Homo sapiens: one gene and its partner. Each later gene encodes a partner of the first gene's protein in a complex. Each region holds a gene or a part of one and is shown on either strand. Other genes may lie near its edges. A codon is read from its position in the direction of its gene.

The links. Proteins that work in one complex are often made in the same cells at the same time.
Region 2: the proteins of JARID2 (region 1) and EED are in contact, whole or in part, in a cryo-EM structure (PDB 6C23), measured with the Homo sapiens proteins. Residues at the interface, in NP_004964.2 of Homo sapiens: Pro109, Gln114, Arg115, Lys116, Phe117; in NP_003788.2 of Homo sapiens: Pro95 (codon at 4,411), Phe97 (codon at 4,417), Tyr148, Arg306, Asn307, Tyr308, Cys324, Asp362, Ile363, Trp364, Tyr365, Arg414, Asp430.

The regions. Positions count from the first base shown.
Region 1 is NC_000006.12:15,514,431-15,522,770, reverse strand, and holds the end of JARID2 (protein Jumonji), read right to left. Parts: intron 5,611-8,340; coding exon 5,503-5,610; intron 2,703-5,502; coding exon 2,520-2,702; 3' UTR 729-2,519; downstream 1-728.
Region 2 is NC_000011.10:86,247,753-86,254,752, forward strand, and holds part of EED (polycomb protein EED), read left to right. Parts: intron 1-1,696; exon of another isoform or gene 1,697-1,808; intron 1,809-2,543; coding exon 2,544-2,696; intron 2,697-4,395; coding exon 4,396-4,488; intron 4,489-7,000. UniProt on the Homo sapiens protein: Polycomb group (PcG) protein. Component of the PRC2/EED-EZH2 complex, which methylates 'Lys-9' and 'Lys-27' of histone H3, leading to transcriptional repression of the affected target gene.

The DNA.
Region 1 (8,340 bases):
TCTAAATACACATGTCCTTAAGGCCACTGTAACTCAGGGTTCCTTAGAGTGAAGGGACGTGCAGGTCATTGAGGGCCACCCCGGGAGGTTGCATGTGGGCAGGGCCTGGGCCAGGTGGTGGAGGCTCCACAGGGCTGAGTTCTGCATGAGGCAGGGAATGACCTACCGTTTCACAAGTGGAAAATGCCACTTCCTGTAGAAGAGCTGACTGTAGCCAAACCACTCTGGCAAAGCTTGGGGTTTTCCGTTGATCATTACAGAAGTAAGTAAGTATCATTAGTCCAGTAGCCAGCCAGTCCAACCCCTACTTTTTCACACTCCTGGGCCCAAAAGAACAGAAACAAGCCCAAAGCAATCCTCCATTCTTTATGAAAAGAAACTGGTCCCCTGGAGATGTGTTCCTGCCATCACTCCTCCAGCCCAATGAGAGAGAGGGGACAGACTCCCCGCCGGGATGAGGGGGTCTGTCTGTCTGCAGCCATACCACCCTGAATGCACCCAGTGTCGTCTCATCATGAAAGCAAGCTCAGCAGGGGGGCGCAGCTCGATGGGAAATGAGGGGGACGGCCGCAGGCCACATGGAAACCATTAGGTTAGGCTGAAGGGGACCCAGTGGCAGGTGGGAGCAGGACTGCAGTGTGGGGGGTGGCTCTGCTCCCTGGCTGGGGGGAATCCTCTGCCCCCTGCCCGTGGACGAGAAAAGAAAGAGCTCATTCCATTCAGTCATCTTCCACAAGACAGACAAATGTCCAAAAAACTTTGTTTTTATTATTAAACCTTGTAGTACAAACCTGAAAAGTAAACAAAAAACTCGCAATAAACCACATGAAGTCTCCCTCCCAAGGGAGGGGTGCAGAGCAGCGCTAATAAATTAAATGTCAAACTGTAAGCCATAGGCAGAAGTTTACTGTCAAAAAGAGGGAAAGTACACAGCAAGGCCATAGAAACCGGACAACCACATTGGAAAACACTTGACTGTTTCTGTAATTGTTAAATATTCCAAAACAGTTCAGTCTTCTGCAACAACAACCAACAAAGTGGATCATAGGACGTTCCTGGCAGTCACCACTGGCAAGCTCAGTGCAATATGGGTAGCTACGGGATTGATGAATCCAATTATGAAACAAAGAACAGCTTGTGAAAACAGTTTCCCTTTTTTATTCCACACATACTGTACACACAACCGGAGAAGGGCAACAGCTACTCCATTATTATTTTTTTGTTGTTGTTCAGTGATGTAAGCAGCACTTATAAATGTTACAAGAAAAACCCTGTAAGCATCCAATCCAACCGATGAAGAAACTGAAATGTAAGGCTTTTCTTCATCTTGTCTTCTCACCCCCCTCCCCACCCCCCACCGAGAAAAAGGCTCAAGTATTTAAAACAATTTACAGGCATATGTACAAAAGGGATGGGATTTTTTTTTCTTTTTTCCTTTTTGTTACAACATGAAGAGAAAAAATAGACAAGATGAACGCAAATGCATTTTCACATTCAAAAATAACTGCAGGCCTCCTAGTGGCTCTCTACATGATCATAAATGAAACAAGTTTTAAAAGAAAGATTAATGCTGACTTGTGAAGGTGTCAAACAAGAAGCGGTGAGATGGAGATGGAATGTTAGAAAGATTGCACGTCGATGACAAAGAAGCACTTACGGCTTCCATCACTTTTTTTTCCTTTTTTTTTTTTTTTTTTTTAAATCTTAAGGATGCTATTGAAGGGTTTTTTGATAAAGTAGCCAACAGCACCAAAAAATAACAGAATGGATTTCCTAATGAAATCAGGCACAGGTCTCCCTCATGTGACCCCTCCAAGGCAGGCAGTCTTTTCCGTCTTCCTCGCTCGCTTTTCTTCTTTCCTGGAACAGATGCATAGTGATGTGCTGGTGGAGAGCCCACTCGCTCCCGTCTCCTCGTTCCACCTATGGTTAGGAAACAACGTCCGCCTTCAGCTGCCACAACCGCCCAGAGAAACAAAACGGGGGTGCCCCGGCTTCCCAGATCACAAGCTCATCTGGCACACGGCAGAAGACGACAGCCAAAGCAAAGCCATTTCAAGTTTCGTGTGTGTGTGTGTGTGCGCGTGTGTCTCCTATCCCTTCTAAAAAATCTGCTCACATGACTGATGGTTTTTAAATTTGTTCTCCAAACTTCACCCTCTTCAAAAATGGGTTAAAAAGCCTTTTTCCCCCCAACAGTTACAAAAAAAAAAAAATCAAAACCAAAAAAAAAGGCTTTTGTCAGCCATGGGGCAATACAAATTAATACAGCCCCTCCGGGGTTTTTAAAACAGTGACTATACGGCAGTTTCCAAAATCTGACTGCAGTATCTAGGTTTTCTAAGTACAAAAAAAAGTTCAACAGTTTAATGCTAAAACAAAATTAGTTCTCTAAAACCAGAAGAAAATCTTCTTTAGAGCTAGTGCAAAGACAGCTTGAATCCTACAGCAAGTACTCCAAACTAGAATATAATAATTACAAAAAAATATATATAAATCGACCACGGGCGTTGGCATCTTCATGATGAGCTCGAAGCACTTTTGGATGAACTGGAGGCTGACAGACGGGAGGGGGGCACGTCCACTGTCGCTCTCTTGCGGGGACCTCTTTTTGGTGTGGGTTTACTGAGACAGTTCTCAATGCTGCCGTTTTTACCAGACACTTTGCCGCAGATCTGATTGACCAGACTGATAATCTGTTCCTGTTTGGGGGTGAAAGGAAGACACAGTTAACATACCGTATTAACAAGAGCTCTGTCCCTGAGAGCCATGCAGGGGCAAGTTTAGGGCAGAGGGCAGCGGTCCCCTTCACCACACCAACCAACAGGTTTTAAAATAACCCCGAGAGGCTCAGATGCAGTGAGTCTCCCTTTCCCAGCTCCTCCTGATGCCACATAGCAGGCATGGCCGTTTCATCCTCATCAACACCCTGGTCCACCATGCTTTGCCTGCTCATAAGGGCAGGGCTGGCAGGGGAGCCCAGAGCACTGCCTCTACCACGGAGCACTCAGCAAAGAGACCCAGGGGCTTTGTTACATCCTGGATGGTGACACAAATACCCAAGCTACTTGACTCACTTTAGCTACCGGCCACTGAACCTGGCCATGCAAGTAAATGCAAACACTTCTCAACCTATACATATCCTTGTAATTCACTCAAGAGAATCATTTATCTGTCGGCACCAAAAACTGTGTTTGTAACTTTCACACAGTACATCCTATAATCATATCATTTTTAAAAACAACATGGGGAGGAGTAGCAAACGTGCATCTTATGAGCATCTCTCTGGGCCACGGGTGGCTGGGAACCATGCTGACCCTGGCAGGAGAGGAAGCCAGCCATGGAATGAAACATCTGAGGGCCTGATCTCTAGTCCTCTGAAAAGCCCTCAAGATGAGGGTGAGAAAGTGACAGCTGGCTCCCATCACAAGTTAAAGGTGCCTTCGGAAGGCGGGGCGGTCCACACGTATCTGTAATAACACCATAGTCATGGCTGCTTGAGGTACTGATGATAAACACTGATAAAGGATAAGTGGATGAGCTGCCATAAAACCCATTTAGGCGGCTACTGCTACCTTACCATAAGGACAAGTGAGGAGGAGCGGCAGTGTGCGGTTACAGGAGGACACCGTTCCCTCCCCTGCGTGCAGCTCGACAGGTGGGCAGCACCTGCCCCAGACCAGTGCTCTCACACTAGGCTCGGCGGCAGGCGGCCCAACACCCTGCTCAGCCAGCCTGCAAGGGCCAGAGACACAAATGGCTCCAAACTCCCCAGAGAGCTTCACCATCCATGAGAACCCAAGCCATGAATTCAGGGATTTGCAATCTAGGTGCACCCCCCACCCCAGCAAGGGTGGGTGTTTAAAGCAGACTGTCCCGGGTCAGCAGGCCCAGACATGGGTGATTTGTGTACTGGGCACACTGGGAGGTTGAGAAGATTTTGCAATGGTCTCTGTTTACAAGGTAGAAATTTCCTATTTAAAAGAATGGGCCAGGTGTGGTGGCTCACGCCTGTAATCCCAGCACTTTGGGAGGCTGAAGCAAGCTGATCACCTGAGGTCAGGAGTTTGAGACCAGCCTGACCAACATGGTAAAACCCTGTCTCTACTAAAAAGAAAAATTAGCCGGGTGCGTAGTGGCGGGCACCTGTAATCCCAGCTACTCCAGAAACTGAAGCAGGAGAATGGCGTGAACCTGGGAGGCGGAGCTTGCAGTGGGCCGAGATCACGCCACTGCACTCCAGCCTGGCGACAGAGCGAGACTCCGTCTTAAAAACAAAAAAATGCACAGCTCAACAGGGGACAGAGGCACAGACATGCTTACTGAACTACTCAGCCACTACAGAGTATGCAGTTTCCAAATACCTTTGCTCCTAATTCATCAAAACCAACCATTAGGTCTCAGACAGCCCCTGAATGCCATTCTTTTCCCAGGATCTGGTCACGTCACACATCCGACTACAGAAACAGGCTGCTGGTGAGAGGTACAACCCATGATTCACAGAGCGCTTTCCAGGCAGCCAGAGGAAGCCTCCCCGTGCCGCCGCCTGCACCCCCACAAGGTGCCAGAGCCATGCTCGTGCTCAGCCGCAAAGGCTTCGTTATTTGCAACTGTGCCTGGACATTTGCTGCTAAGGTGAAGGAGGGACACAGCAGGTGCTTACTGCCTTCACCCAGCATGCTCTTTGAAACAAAACAGATGCAAAGAGTTCTTCTTCCAGCTCTCCGATCATTTAGCTCAAGGCTTATCCAGTGAGACCCACCACTTGGCCCCACTGCCTGGGCCCCCAGACACACCAGGCCCCTCACAGTCATACCCGCAGCACCCACCCCACTCAGTGGCCTCAAATGTGCAATGACCACAATGTGGCGACCTTCCTCGTAACCAGCCTCATCAGAGTCTGTGGGAAGCACACGTGGGGAAGGCGGGCAGAGCAGGGGAGAGGCACTGCTGCCAGGAGTTCCGCCACTCAGAGCGGCCCCCAGCTGCACAGGCTGTGTGTTGTTATGACCCCCCTCTCCAGAAGAGCGTGGCACCTGCAGGAAGGCACCGGGATTTCACATCATGGGGCCCGTCCTGCCCCAGTGTCCGCAGACACTTCCAGCTCTCTCAGCCTGAAGGGGCTGGTGTCAAGTTAGTGCAGATTGGAGAGGCCACTGCCAACCATCCCACTGTGCCTGGGACAGGTCACAAAAAAGGGTCTGGGTCTAAACCACAGTGGTGCAGCCCTTGGGAAAGCCGGGGGGGCGGCTGCAGGAAGAGCCTCAGCCCTGTTAAGAGCCCATTGCTCAAATCCAAATGCCCGTGCAGGAACCCCGCTCCCCCTGGGATCCTAACATGGGGCCTGAATGGGTTTAGGGCCTAAGAACAGGGCACCTCAGGCCTGCAGAGCCCTGACTACCCGCCAGGCACAGAACTGCCAGGCCGGAGTGCCTACATCCAGCCGGGAGCAGGGAAGGCGCCACGCTGCCGCCCTGCCCTACCCCGCGGGCAGGGACTGACCTCATCGTAGCGGTACATCAACTTCAGCCCTCGGCAGGACTTCTGTTTCTCCACGTGGCGCAGAGCACACTCCAGACAGAACACGACGTTTTCGTTCTCTTGTACCACCTGCAAGCAAGAGCAGGACACCCGAAGGTCAGGAGGCAGCTCCACAGCGCCCTGGGAGGGTAAGGTAGGAGCACGCCCGGCCGGGCAGCCACCACACCCACTGCCCGCGCCAGAGTAGCCCCAGCACCCACCACCCGGGCCAAGGGCTTTGAGGACTGGAAATGCTGGAAATGGACTAAAACGAAAACTGACCAAACACCTGGAACATGGTCTTCAACTAGGAAGGTGAGTAACTGACCACCTCTGAGTTAGACCTGGGAGTGGCCCTCAAGTCCCCTCCAGATTTCTGCTGGAGTTTCCTGGGAGAGGTTCAGTCACCACCAGGCTGCTAAAGACAGTGAGGGGTGCGTATTTCTCATCTCTTGAGTTCTGAGGGCTCCTGAGATCCTGTGTTTGAAACCACCCTAGTGCTGGAATAGATGTGGAACATGGAGGACTCCAACTTAGGCGGCCACCCGGGGAACGCACCCTTGACTTTCCAGCAGCAAAACAGGTTCTCATGGTGGTCCATGAGTGGCTCACAGTCAACAGAGCAAGCGGCGTCCAACGACCCCATGCAAACTCCCCCAAAACCCTCAACATCACAGATTCCTGACCGCTGTGACGCCGATGACCTCACCCACCAGCCCCGGCCCCCTTGGGCGGGCTGTCCACAAAGCCCACAGCTGTCCCGCCAGTGGACACCCTGCTGCCTGAGGCCACAGGAGAGTGCTGGGACAGAGACCCTCACTGGGGGCCTGTCTAGGGTTGAGAGGGGCCGGATGAAAGGAAACAGCCACCTGGCTTCTGCCGGAGGGCTCCCATACTTCACGCTGACTCCAAGTCCTATTCTAATTCTGAGTTTGAAAATAAGGAAAAATTCAGTCTTAACACTCAAGAGGAGAAGAGTCATAGGCCTTTCTCAGAAAGCTTGAGGGGAAGGACTTGTTTTCGTCTGCGGTGTTTCTAAGCAAGGAACAGAGAACACGTTGTAGGAGTGTGGGAATGCCACCTACTGACAGAAACAAGACCTTGGAGAGACACGGGGCCAAGGACAGGAAGAACAGGAAACACATCAAATTTAAATTCACAAATGTATTAGTAATCCAAGCAATGCAAACTGTCAACGTATAAGTCAAACCCCAATTTTTGCCTATGGATTTATAACGGGTTTTTTTTTTTTTTTTGAGATGGAGTCTCGCACTGTCACCTGGGCGATGGCGCGATCTCGGCTCACTGCAACCTCCACCTCCCGAGTAGCTGGGACTACAGGCGCTCAACATCATGCACGGCTAATTTTTTCTATTTTTAGTAGAGATGGTGTTTCACCATGTTGGCCAGGCTGTGATTGGCCCGCCTCAGCCTCCCAAAGTGCTGGGATTACAAGCATAAGCCACCGTGCCTGGTTTTTGTTTTTGTTTTTTTTTTTTAAAGAGACAGGTTGTCACTCTGTCACCCAGGCTGGAGTACAGTGGTGTGATCATGGCTCACTGTAGCCTTGAACTTCTGGGCTCAAGTGATACCCCCGCCACCACACCCAGTTAATTTTTTGTATTTTTTGTAGAGATTAGTCTCCCTCTGTCACCCAGGCTGGTCTCGCACTCCTGGCCTCGAGTGATCTGCCCACCATTGCCTCCCGAAGCACTGGGATTGGCCTACCATGCCCGGCCTCACAATACATTCTTCTTAAAATAACTTTCAGGCTGACAGGAAATGCCAGGTGACAACTCTGAAGTTTCTGAAGGATGGCTTGAAAATGAGGCCACCTGGTGCCACCTCACAGGGACAGACCAGCTTCACCCCCAGGTGTAACTACCATACAGCCCTCAGTGCATGGAAATGAATAGCGTGTTCCAGCAAGAGGATGGACAGCTGGGCGCAGTGGCCCATGCCTATAATCCTGGGGCTCTGGGAGGCTGAAGTAGGCAGCCTATGGGTAACAGCAAAACCCCATCTCTACCACAAAAAAAAAAAAAGTTAACCAGGCGTGGTGGTACACCTGCTGTCCCAGCTACTCAGGAGGCTGAGGTGGGAGGATGACCAGGAGGTTGAGGCTACAGTGAGACAGGATCACAGCACGCATTCCATCCTAGGCAACAGAGCAAGACTGTCTCAAACAAACAAAAAAAAAAAAGAACAGAGAGAGAGCACACCAAGCTATGCAGCTTTTATCAGTGATGTTTATAAGATACTTTGAAGATCTGGGAAAATGCTTATCATCATTTTCTTTTAAGAACCAAATGGCTCTAGGTAATACATTTTGAGAAGTCTGGGGGAAAAAACCAGACAGAAGGAAATCTACAGGACAGGAGGCAGGGCGGTCACGGACTGCATTTGTCCCCCATCAAATGCAAACGTTGAACCTCCAGGATCTCAGCTGTGACTGCAGTTGGGGGTAGGGCCTCTAAAGAGGTAAATCAGCTCAAATGAGGCCATGAGGGTGGGCCTATCTGATACAATGTGATTTGCGTCCTTAGGTAAGGAGGAGATGAGGACACACCGAGTTTTTAGCTCTTTCAAATGTTACAAAGCCCTGATCTGACGATCTGACGATCTGACTCATCCGGGAGAGGCTGTGTCCTCCCTCTTCTACAGGGCACGCCAGGACTCGGGGTGAGACGGCATGACACAGTCACACTGGGAGGCCAAGGAGAGTCGACCCGGGTCTCAGTCCTGGCCCACCATGGACAAGCAGAGGGACGCAGAGGCACTGGCCTCTCAGCGAGTGTGCAGCCGAAGGGGGCACCTGTG
Region 2 (7,000 bases), on another chromosome or scaffold:
TAGTTTTACTCTTGAGGGAGCCAAATAATGGCAAAAGGCCAAAGCAGATGGGGTGTGGGGGAATATGTTTTTGTGTTAGAGTTCAGGTAACCTGAGCAGTTACTACTGTTAATGTGAGTCAGAGAATTACAGGCACATATTTTACATTTATTGTGTTACCTGCCATTTTATTGAACTTTTTGAGATCATATGACTGCAGAGTAGTTGGCTTCTGCGAGAGTACTAATGGATGCCTTGGTAGTAAGATCAGAGGGCTGAATCTGGAGACTTGTCTTTTTGCTTAAGCAAAAGCAAAGATGCAGGGAATCCCTGTGGCAAGATGCAGGTGCAAATTACTGCCCTGTGTCTCTTTCCTCGTTGGGCAAGTGAAGATGGTAGTACCATGTCTGTTGCACAGTATCATTCTTTACTTTGAGAATGGAATAGGATGGAGGTCACCCTGTACATATATTAGACACTCAGCAAAGACTTGATTTTAGTTTAAAGATAAAATGGAAGCATGGTGGCTGTATTACATTTTCATTTGATTCCATCTTGATTTGCCTTGGGAGGAGATGGGTAAATTAAGTGATCAGAAGTAAAATAAGCAACGTGCCCTATTAACGAATGTTTTGTGTGGCCTCTGTATTGGCAGCTCAGTGTTTAGCCAGAATGTAAAGAAACTGATATATAAAAACGTCTTAGAGTTTTTAAAATTTCAGTTCTCTAGTGTTAAAAGGTAATTTTACAGAAAAAATGGCAAGTGAACACATGTTGAAACTTTTACTCAGAGGGAACCAGGCAAATGTTATACAGTAATGGTTAACCCGCAAAATCAAAACAGTACAAATTTATTAATATATGGAGTAAAGGAATGGAGAGATGAATTCCAAATGGAGACAGAAACTTTTTTTTCCCTTGAGTGGAAGGGAAGACATTTTGAACCTCTACTGTAGAGACAAAATTTACATGTCTATCAGTTATTCATAATGAAAAAAGAGTTGTGGCTGGGCGCAGTGGCTCACACCTGTAATCCCAGCACTTTAGGTGGCTGAGGTGGGAGGATCCTTTGAGTCCAGGAGTTTGAGACCAGCCTGGGCGACATCGTGAAACTCTGTCTCTACCAAAAATTAGCTGGGTGTGGTGGCCAGCTCCTGTTGTCCCAGCTACTCAGGAGGCTAAGGTGGGGGGAAGATCACTTGAGTCTGGGAGGTGGAGGTTGCGTTGAACCAAGGACAGAGTGGGTGACAGAGGGAGAGCCTGTCTCAAAAAAGAGTTGTAAGATAGCTCAAAGACATAGTGGAGGGCTATAGTCTGGTAACTTGGAAGGATGTGCTATATAGATAATGCATAGTTTTCCACTGAGATACAGAATTGTTTTCTACGTTTGATGTTAATTATGTGAATACAACTGAAAAGGTGGAGAGAAAAAGAGATTAAAATACCACATTTTCTATTTCTGTAAAGACTAATGATATTCACATTAAATTACAATTCAAATATTTGTTGAGTACGTACTGCTTGCTACCCGCCTATTATTTCATTTATGATATTTTTTAACCTTCTATATAAAACCAACTTTAGGAAGCAATAATTTAAAAATAGCCCCTAAAGCAGTGTTTCCTAGGCTGTTTAATAGGCATTTCATGGAAAAAAAAAAAAAAAAAGGCTTCCTCTGGAATGTATTTTAGAACTGCTGCCCTAAGATCCTAGATTAAATAAATCTTTTCTTTCCAAAGGAGACATTGGAATCTGTAATCAGGAGGTAGTGGAATCCTCTTCTGAGATTAGAGAGCTGAGATTAGAGGGCCACTCGTGTGTGAGATAAGGTATGAATTAGGAGAATTTTCAAGGTTTCCTGCAGTCATTTCTTTTTTTTGGAAGGATTTACTTTAATTGTGATTGAGAGTCTCTGGAGTTCTGATTTATGAGTATTATTACTTTAGAACAATGAGACAGTTTTAACTTGTAAATAGCATAGAATATATGTAGCACTTTAAAAAAATTCTAAATGTTTTGCGTTATAAGCAGAATTTGAATAACAGGATTTTAAAAAGTGACATCTAATGTAGAAGCCATTAACACTCCTGCTTCAAACGGCTCCCCAGCTCCATGCTCCAGACTGAGCAGCAGTCAAATACATTATGAAGACATATACATCAGTCAGATTTAAGAGTCACAGCTTTGGGATGGAATTACCAGCCAAGAGACCAGTTAGGCTTTTTCAGCACTTCCAGTACCTTTTGTAAAGAGCTGTAAAGATTCACTGATACAGTGTATTAAAGTGACTGGAACAGACCAGTGCCTTATTAAAGACAGTATTACTCTTCCATTATTCTCATTAGTATTTATTTCATTTTCATTTTTGTTGAAATATAAAATATCTACAAACCTTCTAACCTGTAGCTGGATTATGTTTATCCTTATGTGGAGGCAAGAATACATTTTTTTCTTCTTGTAGAAATTATTTCTCTTAGGTCAGTCAGCATCTTCCCAGTAGAGTTATTTACTGCTAAAAACAGTATTGCTGTTTCATGTAATTTTTCCTCATTTACTGCTTACAGGATGACGCTGTCAGTATAGAAAGTGGTACAAACACTGAACGCCCTGATACACCTACAAACACGCCAAATGCACCTGGAAGGAAAAGTTGGGGAAAGGGAAAATGGAAGTCAAAGAAATGCAAATATTCTTTCAAATGTGTAAATAGTCTCAAGGTATGTGCAAAAAAAGATCCTTTGGGCTGAATGCTAGGCTTCAGAAATTATTTCTCTGTGGCACGCATTTCGTACTCAGGATACTCTGTCAAGTTGTAAATATTTTAAAGTTACAATGTTTTCTGAAGGGTTTTTTTTTTTGTAGTTCAGACTGCGTATCTATTTTAGTCCATCCCATGTTTAGTTTTTTGGTTTTGTTTTTTGTTGTTTTAATTTAAATATGTGACAGTGTTGCAGGATGTTTTTGCTTTATTGTTTGCATTCAAATTATAAGATTTGGGTAACTATTACTCTTTATATTTTAGTAAAACTTAAAAAACATAAGCCACTTCTGGCATCAGTTTTTAAAAAGAACTGAATGTAACCCATTAACTTTGACTAAGTATAAATTGAAACAGATGTTTTACTTTGTACAGTTTCTGTCCTTTGTTTTATTTATAACTGTTTTCAAAGAAAAAGGTGTAAAAAATTTTTAAACTTTTTAATATTAAATATTTAGGGAAAAGGGGGTTTTGGTTATTTAAATTAATCTGTCCCCAATAGTATTTTTATTTACTTTATAAAAGGGGTTACTGGTGTTTAAGATATTTTCTTTTATATATGTCCAGTTTGTTTTTTAAATGTGAGGCTATTTTTTTCTATACTGAGGAAAAATGTGTATTATCTCATACATATGTAAGTTAAAACCTTTTCTAAATATCCAAATATATTTTTTATAAGTAAAGTTTTGGGAAAGCATAAGAAGCTATGACTATGACATTTTTCTGTCTGTGTAGCAAAAATTCGATGCTCAGTGTGTCAGATTTTGCTCCTGTAAAAGGAGAGAAATTAATCTCAGCATATTTTTTAAAAGTCAATTATAGTTTCATGTGCATATTTATTTACATTAACGTACTACTTTTAGGTACTGTACCTGGAAGATGTTTTTAGCTGCCTTTTATACTTAAGGCAGTATTTCAAAATCCTAAAGCTGTGGCTTTTCAAATGATGAGAAAACGAAAGACGTACTTTAAAAGTGAAAACAGTGCCTTAAACTGCATCTGAAAGTCAGTGTTAAATGCCAGAAGTTGGCCAGTAAAATCCTAAAGCTGAAAAATAACTTTGTGAACAAAAGTGCATAATTGTTCTTTGTACATCTCCTATAGCCTCCTGGTAACTGTGCAGTTACAGTTTATTTCTTCCCCTAGTCCCCAGTGTTCAGATATTCTCATTCTGACTAACAGAAAACAGTGATTTGAATGGAGTCTGCTATGCTTCACTTTACAAGGGAAAAATTTAGCCTTATAAAATTTAGTGAATGCCAGAGAAGCTATTAAGGCCATCTGTTAATTTCCTGTTTCAGAAAAATAAATTGTGTCCTTTTGTATCCACCAAAATTATCCAGTTTATTGTGATTCAGAATATGATTGGCTTATTAAGAAAAAGGCAAATATTATAAGTGTTTTCGTAGGTAAGCGGTTATTACCTAACTTGTGATTTCAGCCTTTGGTTGTGATAAAACTTTATCATACACAATATTTTAAAATGTGAAAACTAGACTAGTAGACATCTTTTAATTTTAGTGTCAAAAGTTAGCTTATGTATGATACACAAAATAATGTATTGCATTTTGGAAAAAAGAAGGGGATAGGTTAGTTTACTGTCATTTTCTGGTTTGTAAGATACATTAATCTTTTCTTATTTCATGATTATTTTATAGGAAGATCATAACCAACCATTGTTTGGAGTTCAGTTTAACTGGCACAGTAAAGAAGGAGATCCATTAGTGTTTGCAACTGTAGGAAGCAACAGAGTGAGTGTTAAGGGGTCTATTTAGTATTTGGCTTGATTTCCAGATCTGGTGTTAATGTAATATTGAAATAGAATAATTTCAAAGTGCATTTTGTGAAGCTGGTTTAGCAATATGATTCTTTCATGTAAGAGTGAAGGTTTCTAGAAATTAATTAAAACTAGTATGCATGGCTGAAAATACATCTATATTTAATATATTACCCCTAATTATTTATGAAACAGGTTTTATACTTGTATTTGTCTTCATAAATACTTGGTTGAAAGAATTGGCGTCCTTTTTTTTTTTTTTTAATTGGCGTTCTTTTTAAAGTGATTTTGGTATTTATCATTCAAATAGCGTAAGAACTGGCTGTGATTTTTTTAAAATTAAGGTAATGAATGGCTCTATAAATGAAGCATAAATCCAGTGGATTTAAATAAGTTATTGAGATGTTTTAATTACTTGCAGTAAACATTTGAGTTTGCTGGGTTTTTTTGTTTTGAGACAGGTAGTGTTTGGTGGTGATTGTTGTTGTTGTTGTTGTTGTTTGTTTTTGAGAGAGAGAGAGTCTTACTCCTTCCTCCAGGATGGAGTGCAGTGGTTAATCAAGGCTTACTGCAGCCTCAACTTCTGGGGCTCAGGTGATCCTCCCATGTCAGCCTTCTGAGTAGCTACAGGCATGCACTACCATCCCTGGCTAATTTTTTTTGTAGGGATAGGTTTTCACCGTGTTGCCCATGCTGGTCTTGAACTCTTGGGCTCAAGCAATCTACCTGCCTTGGCCTCCCAAAGAGCTGGGGTTGCAGTCATGAGCCACCATGTCCAGCCTTTTAAGGAAATTTTATAATGACATGTAAGGCTCTAGGCCTTTTACTATTTGACAAGGTCAATTCATTGAAACTCTAAATATTTTTAAGTTACCACTGAAGTTGATAACATGAAATAATAGCTTTTTTTCTTCTGTTTTTGGTGTTTAGTCAAATGTAGGTTTTAAGATAATGTAGTCTGCTTATAGTTGTTTAGTTCCTAGATTCTTTGAAAACAACAATTCAGAGGAAAAATTTTGCGGTTTTAAGAAAAGGTTGAGGTTATTTTTTTCCTAGTTGGGAATGTAGTGCATTAATTAAATTTGAGTCCACTTTTAAGACACCACTGTAAACCTAAGTTAATATTTAGCTTTGATAGTATTATAATTGGTATAGTTTGTGCTCCAGTGTGCTGATTGCAGTGTTTTAGGTTTTCTAACAAAAAGAATCCCTATTTTTATTTAAAGTGACATAAAGGGGTGTCATATAGTTTATTGAATTATAAAAAGTTCTGCTGTTAGAATTTCTTTAAAAGGAAGAAAGAAAACAAAAACAATTACCACATAAGACATAACCTAGTTAGCAGCCATATAAAGAATTTTTTTTGAACATTAACATAGAGGAGATAATGAATTAATAGGTTGTGATGATACACAGGATCTTCAGAGGTCTTCAGTACTATTATAAAATAATAATAGGTTTTTGCTAATGTGACTGACTATAAGCTATAAGAAAAATGGGGCCGGGCACAGTGGCTCACGCCTGTAATCCCAGCATTTTGGGAGGCTGAGGCAGGTGGATCACCTGAACTCAGGAGTTCGAGACCAGCCTGACCAACGTGGTGAAACCCTGTCTCTACTAAAAACACAAAAATTAGCTGGGCATGATAGCGAGTGCCTGTAATCTCAGCTACACGGGAGGCTGAGGCAGGAGGATCACTGGAATCCGGGAGGCAGAGGTTGCAGTGAGCCAAGATCATGCCATTGCACTCCAGTCTGGACGACAAGAGTGAAACTCTGTCTCAAAAAAAAAAAAAAAAAAAAAAAAAAAGAAAATGGAAAGAAATTTATAAAAGTTTAGTATTACAAAATTGTGTATGGTGTATGTATAGTTTTAATTTTAGAGTATGCAACAAATGAAAAAGGCTATCATACATGTGAAAGTTAATGTTTGATTATCTGTACCCATGAGAAAATAATTCATTAAGCAAATTGTAGACTTTTAAATATGTAACTAATATGTAAATACTCCAAAACTATCCAAAGACTTATTTTTATTTGAATTTTTATTTTTTATGGTTTTTTTTTTTTTTTGAGACTGAGTCTCTCTCTGTTGCCCAGGCTGGAGTGCAGTGGTGCAATCTTGGCTCACTGCAACTTCTGCCTCCTGGGTTCTAGCGATTCTCCTGTCTCAGCCTCCTGAGTAGCTGGGACTACAGGCACATGCCACCACACCCACCTAATTTTTGTATTTTTAGTAGAGACGGGGTTCCACCGTGTTAGCCAGGATGGTCTTGATCTCCTGACCTCGTGATCCACCCGCCTCGGCCTCCCAAAGTGCTGGGATTAAAGACATGAGCCACTGTGTCCGGACTTATTTTATTTTATTTTTTTTTGAGACAGAGTTTCGCTTTTGTTGCCAGGCTGGAGTGCAATGGTGCAATCTCGGCTCACTGCAACCTCCGCCTCCCGGGTTCAAGTGATTCACCAGCCTCAGCCTCCTGAGTA